Linked DNA regions of Homo sapiens: region 2 is linked to region 1. Evidence: fine-mapped expression QTL. Tissue or cell type: whole blood. Region 1 holds a variant in brackets; the other region holds the start of a gene. All regions are shown on one strand. Distances are between the middles of the regions.

The links. PIP is the estimated chance that this variant, and not a neighbour inherited with it, causes the effect.
Region 2: it holds the start of LRRK2, and the variant in region 1 is fine-mapped to the expression of LRRK2 in whole blood (INTERVAL, PIP 0.96).

The regions. Positions count from the first base shown.
Region 1 is chr12:40,284,014-40,289,170 of GRCh38, forward strand. It overlaps LRRK2 (leucine rich repeat kinase 2), which reads left to right. Exons shown (of 51, transcript NM_198578.4): 19 at 1-120; 20 at 3,338-3,526. Among named protein-coding and RNA genes, the nearest start is that of LRRK2, 62 kb to the left of the region's middle. The variant A/G (reference allele first, on the strand shown) is at 2,056.
Region 2 is chr12:40,222,620-40,227,776 of GRCh38, forward strand. It overlaps LRRK2 (leucine rich repeat kinase 2), which reads left to right and starts at 2,378. Exons shown (of 51, transcript NM_198578.4): 1 at 2,378-2,663; 2 at 2,936-3,021. The coding sequence starts at 2,513. LRRK2-DT (LRRK2 divergent transcript) reads right to left here and starts at 1,203. Exons shown (of 9, transcript NR_186757.1): 1 at 1,040-1,203. LINC01779 (long intergenic non-protein coding RNA 1779) reads right to left here and starts at 2,284. Exons shown (of 1, transcript NR_186584.1): 1 at 457-2,284. RefSeq lists a silencer at 2,144-2,503 and an enhancer at 3,702-3,791.

The DNA.
Region 1 (5,157 bases):
TGGCCCTGGATGTGGCCAACAATAGCATTTGCCTTGGAGGATTTTGTATAGGAAAAGTTGAACCTTCTTGGCTTGGTCCTTTATTTCCAGATAAGACTTCTAATTTAAGGAAACAAACAAGTAAGTAACAAGGAGAATATTTTTTACAATTCTTATTTTTAATAGTATTTTTTTAAGTCACTAGTCTTTTAGTGGTTATTCATGCCAGTTTGAGGGACCTTAAGCCAAAGATATTGCAAAGGTTTGGATTTTTTTTTTTTTTGGCTATGAAATACTTCAAAATGACATTTAAGTTCTTTATGAGATAGCAAATAGTTATTTATAAAAATAGAGCAAAATAGTGGAAGCTTTTTGAAGGGGTACTTTTTAATATATATTTTTTATTATTAAAGTAAGATATCCCTGTTTTTAAAGGAAATATAAAATTATAAAAAAGAAAATAAAAATAACTTATTTTATCTCTTATAAGTAATTAATATGGATATTTTTCCTAACTTTTTATATGCTTACATGTACCTATGCATTCAAATGTATGTAAAAGCATACACACATATTTATTTGGCATTTTTAACTTAGAATATACTTTATATTTCAATTGATAATGCATTTTCTTTATACTTTCAAGCTCATGTGTATTTTGTACATATTATGTGTATTGATGGTAAGTTACCATCTTCTGACACTATTTTTATCTTTTGAGCTCTCTCATTTGTTCACACTAAATGTGTTTTTAGCGTGAAAGCTCCCAGCTTTCCCTGTGTTAACTTAGTCCCATGCCCATCTCCTTCCCCATGGTCATCAAACTCCATGAATCAACACCTTAAGGACCATCTTGCAAGTAACATGTTTGCTTCTCTCATTTTTATGATGCACTCACTAGCAAAACACCAGTTTTGGTCAGTCTACCAGTCTACTTTTTCCCTCAGTTTCACCAAGAAAACTGAGTGCTGCTAGAGAAAAGTACCCATCCATGCAATTTGGTGCCTTTATACATCAAGGTTTCCAACCGCTCAGTAGGCTCCAAAAGTTCCAATCAGGCTGAATTTTCCTCGGTTTCTCAAACACTTCGTGTACCCTTACTTCCAGTCTTTTTCCAGTGTTACTCTCTCTCTACCTAGCTCTAAATTCTCTCTTCACCTGGCTGTCTCTTCATTCTTCCTGTCTCAGTGCTATCACCAGTCTGGAAGGTTCTCTTACATGACCCTATAGCACTTTATTTCTCACATATACTACCATTCACCACATTATATAATTTAATTTTTCATTTTTATAATCTACTTTTTGGTAAATTGTTAGTACCATGAAGTCAATGTCAATTTTGTTCATGGTTGTAACCTTACCATTGATACTAGTGTTTTGCACATAGTAGATTATCATTTAGAATTAAGTATTCAATATTGGCAAAAAATAAAAATTGTGTAATACATTATGTTGATAAGCATGTGTGGAAACATGCTTCATATATTGATATGAATTTAAATTGTCCTCTTTTGAGGACAATTTGGCAATATCTACTAATATTTTTAATATATGTACATACTTTTTTGACCTCACAATGTACTGTTAGGAATCTATGATACAGACATTCTCAATGTGCACAAAAATTATGTACAAAAATGCACATTAAAACATTGTTTATAATAGCAAAAGAGTAGGAAAAAAACCTAAGTATTCCCCAAAAGGAACTATTCAAATAAATAATGGTACATACATGTTGTGGAATGCTTTGCAATCATTGAGGAAAAAAAAACGTGGAGCAAATTTAATGTCCTGATAAAGATTACATTACTCCGTGGCAAAAAAAAGGGCACAGACAGTGTTTTTACTATGCTAATGTTGATGAAAATGCAACTGGAATATGATAGTTATAAAAGTTTGAATATGAAATAAAACCCTCCAGAAATGGGTTCCCTGGTTGTCTCTGGGTCTTTGGAAATTACTGAGACATGGTTAGATCCCATGTTTCATTACTTAAACTAGTCTTATGCCAAAAACCTGCTTACTTTAATCTTCAATATCCGATGGAGAGGAATTGTGGGCCCATTGGAGAGGGAC[A/G]GAGGGAGATTTATCATTCACTATATTCTCTTTGTTCTGTCTGGAGTTTTTACCATTGACACATCTTACCCAGTTAAAAAAACATAGAATTGTCATTTGATTAATTGGAGGGTATAACCATGATTTCACTGGCAGCTGGTCTGAGTAAAGAACACTTTGGGTCATAGCTTTCAAACATTTTTCAGGTAGTATTTGCCTAAGTGACATATTTGTGTGTGAGCTCATCCTACCGGGCTTCGGGATAATTTCCCATATCATAACATATTACTCTGGAAAAAGGAACCATTTGGGTATATGGGTATAGTGTAAGCCATAGTATCAGTTGCCTTCTTGGGGTTTATCATATGGGTCCACCACATATTTACAGTAGGAATAGATGTAGATACATGAGCATACTTCACTCTGCTACTATAATTATTGCTATTCCTACTGTTGTCAAAGTCTTTTAGCTGATTATCTACACTTCACAGGGGTAATATCAAATGATCCCCCACCATGCTCTGAGCCCCAGGGTTTATTTTCCTTTTTACAGTAGGAGGCCTAACCAGCATTGTATTAGCCAACTCATCACTGGATATTGTACTACATGATACAGCAGTATCATGTAGTAATATTTGAAGTCATTACAGTAGTAATATTTGAAGAAATCTTCCTGGCTGTATGTAGAACAATGAGGACTCAGCCAACTTATTCTTCATAGTAGAGCTAATACATAATGTAATGAAGTTGTGAGAAGAATGTTAACTTTGAAATTCCATCAGGTTTCCCAATAGTCATAATGAATCACTCAGCAAACTTTATAAAAATAACAAGATCCTTTATTTAGCAGTTTATGTGTTCTATGCATTGTGCTAAACATTTTATATGCATCATTTCAATTACTCTTTTTCATCACCATATACTGTATTTATTATCATCTTCATTTTCCAGGTGAGGACACTGATACCCAGGGAGCTCATATAACTCACAAATGGCATTTCTATGACTTGAACACAGGCCTGTCTGGCTTCAAAGCCTAGGCCTTTTCCTGAATAAAGTTAGTTCCATAGAGATTCAGTTTTGCTGTCTACATGAAAGCATTGTGTACATGGTTATGTTTTTTTAAAAAATATATGATCTGCCACCTGTTAATTATTCAGGATCACTAGTGTAAGGTGACTTTGAAAGGAAAAATAGAAATATTCTCCAGAAGCATAGCAATACGTAAGAACTTTGGTCCTATGTATGTTTATTTTTGCATAATTGTTGATTTCTAAGTTGCTGGTGTATCTCTTATTTTCAGATATAGCATCTACACTAGCAAGAATGGTGATCAGATATCAGATGAAAAGTGCTGTGGAAGAAGGAACAGCCTCAGGCAGCGATGGAAATTTTTCTGAAGATGTGCTGTCTAAATTTGATGAATGGACCTTTATTCCTGACTCTTCTATGGACAGTGTGTTTGCTCAAAGTGATGACCTGGATAGTGAAGGTATTTATTATAAAAAAAAACCCTTTATGCTTTATATTTACACACTGACATTGAACAATAGGACCCAAGACAAAAACCTGACCTAAATCATCTGGAAAAACTTGAGTAGAAATGTGTTTATTATCGCAAACAGTTAAGTTTACTAATTTTGGTTAAAGTGATGGGTCAAGGAAGTGTGTCTCTGTGCTTCTAAATGTTATACTAATTGGTTAATGGTTAATATTCCAGGAAACAAACTCTGACTAGACTGGAACGAGATTCCACGCTCTGTCATTGACTAGATCCTTTCGTGGCTTGTGTAAGCCCCTTAACCTTGTTAAAGGTAGTAATGTCGACTTTGCAGGGTTATACATAATAATTAGAAAAAATGTATGTAAAATGTCTGCAACAATGCTTGGCAAACAGGAAGCGCTTAATAAAAAAGGTTTTTATCTTTACTATAGCTTAAAACAATATTAATATTTTAATAGCTCACTTGAGATAACTTTTTAAAAAATTAATATGGTGAAATATATAATGACAATGATTAGGGCTGATGTATTTAGCATTAGCAGTTTGGTAAAAATGGAGTGAGGGGCTTTCTTATTAATATAGTATGATTGAAAACACTGGGTGATAGAATAAGGATATTTGAGAGGGCAAAAAATGAGAGTTGTTCCAAAATATTGTGTCTCAAGTCAAACCATTTTTAAAAATCAAGTGTAGTGATTTATATACATATATAATTTATATAAAATAAAATGCATTCACTTTAAGTATATATTTTCATGCGCTTTGAAAATTAACATATTCATGTGGTCATTGTCGCTATTAAGTTATGCAATATTTTCATTATCCAAAAAAGTTTCTTCATGCCTCTTCACTGAAAACATCCCCTTCCCCTGGCCCCCCTGACCCTTAGCAATCATTTGCTTCCTGACAATGTAGATTAATGTTTTCTCTAGTTTTATATACATAGGATCATACAGTGAGTACTCTTTTGTGTCTGTTTTCCAAAATGATTGTACTATGTTCTACCCCCACCAGCAGTACATGAGCATTCTGGTTGCTCTACATCCTTGTCAGTACTTGGTATTTTCAAGTTACTTTTAGCTGTTCTAGTGGAGGTTTAATTCATTTAGATGTAATTTTCATTTCCCTGATGACTAATTATGTAGAGGATGTTTTCATGTTCTTATTGGCCATTCTTATTTTTGTGTGAAGTGTTGAAGTATTTTGCTTTTAATTGGGTTGTCTTATTATATAAGAGTTCTTTGTATATTCTAGATAGAAGTTGTGACAGGTATATGTATTGCATATTTTTTTCCCAGTCATAGCTTGTCTTTTCATTTTACTAATTCTATTTTTAACAAAACAGAGGTTTTAAATCTTGGTGAAATGCAGTTTTCCAGTTTTTTTCTTTTATGGTTTGTGCTTTTTGTATCCCACTTAAGAAACCTTTTCTTAGCCTAAATTTGTGAATATTTTCTCCCATATTTTCTCTTAGAAGTGTTAAAATCTCAGCTTTGGCATTTAGGTCTAAAACATTTTAAGTTGATTTTTGTGTGTGGTGTGTCAATGAAGAGTTGACATTTATTTCTTTCTGTATGGATATCCAGTTGTTCCAACATTACTTGTTGAAAATATTATAT
Region 2 (5,157 bases), 61 kb before region 1:
TCTTTTTTGTTTTTATGTTTCCTTTTTCAAGATTATATAACTATTAATTTATATTTTATTTTTGAAGTTATTTTTATTTAACTTTTTAATCTATTTGATGTTTGCTGTAATTAGTAATGTCAGTTTTATTTTTTTTCTTTTCAGGAAATTAGCCAAATGTTCTAGCACCATTTTATTCTCCACTGAACCCTGCTTCCATCATAAATTCATGCCTTAATCTTCATTTTCAGTCTTGTTAACTACTTGAAGAGTTGATAAATCTTGGAATTTCAGTCAATCAATTAAACATTTTTGAAAACTAAGAGAATACTTTACCTTAACACTGCAGTAGTTCATGGGAGAATGCTCCCAACAAATAATTCATATTTTCACACTGTCTACTCACAGTCTGGCCAATATAGAGTAGATAATAAATAGGCAATAGATGGATGAATGAATTGTGGAAATTAGGAGACATCTTTTAATTTAGATTTATTTTTCTTTGGAAGGGAGGTAGGTTTTAATTTCTTGCAAGGTTGTAATTCAGTAGAACAGGAAGGGAGAAACTAATGCAGAGGAACAGAAGGAATGCATGAGATGGAGAATGCCTAGAAATGTTTGAGACATTGATTAAGTCATCAGAAATGGAAACAAGTTTAGAAACAACTTAGAAAATAATACACTGTAGGTCTGATAAATATTGTAAGATTGGGAGTTTTTTGTTAAATTATGGAAAATTTTATATAGATACAATAGTAGAACAGACCACATGAACCCATCTCATATTATCTTCAACAATTATCAATTCAAAAGTTGTTATCGTTATCTCTATCTCCACACATTTCATCTTTTCCTCCACCACTGGATGACTTTGAAAGAAATCCTAACCATTTCAACTATAAATATTTTAGCATGTCTCTGTAAAAGTTAAAGACTCTATAACAACAAGACATAGACCCAATATCCAGGTTGAGTAGGAGTTTGCTATCTTACTAATCTAATGTATTAACAAAGTCTAGAGCATTCTTATTAAAGTGGTAGAGCATGAAGAACCTTCTACCTGGAGTTAGGAGATTTGCTGGGTTGAAGTCCTGGCTCTCAACTTCCCACCTGTGTGACTCCAGCAAAGCTCTTCACTTCTCAATTCCAAATCTCAATTTCCTCACTAGTGAAAGAAGGATACATAGTAGTAGTTGTATCCATTTCAGAATTGTCATCAGGATTGAAGTAACAGATGTGAAAACAAAACTAAAATTGTGAAGTAGTAACTTCCAGTCCAATCCTCTTCTTTGTAAGTGATCTTGAGGACAGACACATCACCTGAAGGATAGATCATCTTTGCCTAGCCTTGTCTACAATGTTCTTGCTAGGTTTCTTTTCCTAAAAACACATTACTTAGGTACTTAACAGAACAAACAAACAAACAATCAAAAGACAAAACCAAAAAACTTTGGGGTTATAGACACCCATACTCATAAGTATTTCTGAATACCAAGAGAAGAGTATTTAGGTTTGCTTCTCTCAACTTTTCACCTTTCATTTCATGTACCCTGTCCTTTGTCTCAGCTCTAATAGCTCTGAGAGCTGATTACTTTTCGGGTGTCCCAAGTATCAGGATCCTGCCTAGTGCAACTCAAATTTCCAAAAGTTAATTTAGTGGCCTTTTGGTGACCAGAGCTTCAGATAACTCACAGGGAAACAATGTTTATTTCCTCTCCCACTAACAGTCACAAAAAATCATAAAAAAGAGTAGCGGGGGCAGTTTTGATGGCTAACCCCTCTTTCCATCCTTTGGGGGAAAATTGCTCATCTCCCTATAGGTGGAACTCTAAAGACAATGTATTCCTAAAAGGGGCCATCTGGGCGGTGTCCTCTTTTCCCAGCGCCCTGATTTCTATTCTTAGATCTGGAGATAGGCGGCTTTCATTTTTCCTGCTCCCAGTTCCCAGACCTTCCGTGGGGCCGCAGGATCCCCGGCTGGCGGGTCGCGGAGGGTGGCCGGCCGGGCTGCGCACTGCGCGCCTCCGCTGCGGGGCTCCGGGCCTGTGGACTCAGCGGAGTCCGCTGAGTCAGTTTCTTCCCGCGCGACTCCCGGCCGCGCCGCCGCTGCGGTGGAATCTGGTCCCAGGAGGCGGCGTCCGCCCGGGGTCCGGTCTAGGCGTGCGTGGGGGCCACGGTCACGGTCATCCCAGCCAGGCCCGGCTCCAGCAGCCCCACGGCCGCCGCCAGAGTTCTGCGCGGCCCGTCGCCTCGGCGGAGCCTCTGGCAGGCCCCTGAGCTCGTTTTTGGGGCCTGAGTGGGGGAGGAGGAAGCCGAGCAGGAGGGCTCCGGAGAGGGAGGGCAACGCGGGGCGGGGAGCTGCCTCCTTCCTCATAAACAGGCGGGCGTGGGCGCCGATGGGGCCCGCGGGGAGCGCTGGCTGCGGGCGGTGAGCTGAGCTCGCCCCCGGGGAGCTGTGGCCGGCGCCCCTGCCGGTTCCCTGAGCAGCGGACGTTCATGCTGGGAGGGCGGCGGGTTGGAAGCAGGTGCCACCATGGCTAGTGGCAGCTGTCAGGGGTGCGAAGAGGACGAGGAAACTCTGAAGAAGTTGATAGTCAGGCTGAACAATGTCCAGGAAGGAAAACAGATAGAAACGCTGGTCCAAATCCTGGAGGATCTGCTGGTGTTCACGTACTCCGAGCGCGGTAATCACTTGAAAATAAACTGTGCTTTTATTTTTGCAAACTTTCTCCCCCTCCTTACATTTGCAAATTTTGTCCTCCTCCCCTTGACCCTGCTCAAACCCGGACTCTTAAGGAGCCGCAAACTCCCATATCCTTTCCTTAGGGCAGAAAGCAGCTGAGAATTTCAGGAAGGTCTTCACCTTTTTGACTTTTCTCCCCGTTTCAGACTAAAAAGGAGAGGGGGTGCTGTGGATTGTGACTTTGCTTCTTTTCCCCACCCACTTGTTTTCCAGCCTCCAAGTTATTTCAAGGCAAAAATATCCATGTGCCTCTGTTGATCGTCTTGGACTCCTATATGAGAGTCGCGAGTGTGCAGCAGGTAAAGGCATTGTTTTCACTTCAACTCATTCTCCCTTCTGTTTGGAAGGAGACGTTTTACTGGCAATGTTAATATAGCCGAGAGTTCTTGGTTATTCCCAAAATTTGGCTTGAGGAACCTCTGACTGTGATTTTAAGATGGGAATATTGTTAAATCATTACGCAATGTAAACGGGATGAAGAGCCCCAGTATGTGTTCCCTGAGTGTCTTTAAGAAGTAACTTTATAAAACCAACAGTATGGATGGTGGTAGAAGGAGGATAAAAATGGGTTCGGTTTTAGTCTCGTTATTGGCAAGATGAATTCATTAGTGTTTAGACTTGACTATTCCAAGTATCTTCCCAATACAGAGCATGTCCTAGATGAGAAGATTATGAATAGTTTGGAAAAGGGGAATAATTAATAGTGATAAAATGCAACTTTGTCACTAGCAAACTCTTGTAGAGTTCAGCACTTTTTAAAATTCAAAGATTTCTAGCCTTTAGTTGTAGTATACCTTGTAGTATCTAAAGAAAGTGATGTCTTATGAGACCCTCATAGTTTGCAACTGTTGTCATATAAAATGCATGTAGAAGTGAAACTTTTACAATCTGTACCATAGGAAACCCAGAAATTTGCTATGTATCTTGGATTTTTTTTTAAAGGGGGCCTTAAAAATGGTAATTAAGAATGATTTACAGTCAAAACAAAATTATAGGCCAAGGTGATAACTTCCTTCGGAGCACTTAGAGATTTGGGGAACTGAAATCAGTTTTGTCATCTGCATGTTAACTCATGCAGAGAAAGAGAATTGGACTTTGAACTCCTTGGAGGTGCAGTCAGAAAGCCAATGTTTCTTAATGGTTGAGAGGCTTGACAGACATGAGGCATCTCAATCTTTAAAGTGGTGTGGGTCTATCTTTATCTTGATGTTTATCTCTGTATCTAGCTGTATCTAGTCTGGGTGAACCATCTAGCTTCTTTGATATGAGGACATTTACATCTGGAAGAAATATTTTAATTTGTTTTCAACTGTGAAATATTTTCCATCTGACTATTATAGATTTTCACGCTGCTATCAAACCAAACCAAGAAAAGATGGAGGCATAATAAAGATGCTGTTCTTTTAAGACTCAAAGTCGGAATTTTGCCTGTGGAATATGAGTCACTTTTTGGGCACTGGCCTATTGTGCTTCCTGCTCTGCACCCACGTCATCCCTTCTTACTTGTCTCTGCTTTGGTGTTCAGAAGTGCCTGATTCTGGCCACCTTCATTCCCTAGACTCTGTACTTGATAGAGTCACTCCTGCTTGATACTGCTCAGGACAGTCAGATCCTGGGTAGGCGTTTTGGTCTGCAGGGTCTAGATAAGGCAGTGCTATACTTGACAACCCAGGGGAGCCTGGAACATACTTCCTAATTCTTAATTTTAGAAATTGCCCAAGCCTGAGCATACTTGTCCGGAGTAGTTATGAGTGTCACTTAGTATTTCTGCCTAGAGAGTACCAGAGGCAAAGTATGCTGGAAAATAAGGAAGAGTTTTTTTAAAAGTAATTAATTACTTTTTTGGATATATCATAGTTGTATATATTTTGGGGATACATATGCTATTTGATACATGTATACAATGTGTAATGTTCAAATCAGGGTAACTGGAATATCCGTCACCTCGAACATTTTTCTTTGTGTTGGCAACGTTGCAATTTCTTTCTTCTAGCTATTTTAAAATATGCAATGAATTATTAACCATAATTTCCCTGCTATACTATTAAATATTAACTTAATTGCTTGTATCTAATTATATTTTTGTACACATTAACCACCTTCTCTTTATCCCTCCCCATCCTTTCATTTCCAGTCTCTGGTAACCACCATTCTACTCTCTTCCTCCATGAGATCCACCTTTTCCGCTCCTACATATGAGTGAGATTATGCAATATTTTATTTCTGTACCTGGCTTATTTAATTTAACCTAATGACCTCCAGTCCCACCCATGCTGTTGCAAATGACAGGATTTCATTTTTTATGACTGAATAATATTCCATTGTGTATGTATACCACATTTTCTTTTATTTTTAGTTAAGTAATTAATTTAGAGACAGGGTCTCACTCTGTTGCCCAGACTGGAGAGCAGTGGTGTGATCAAAGCTCACTGCAG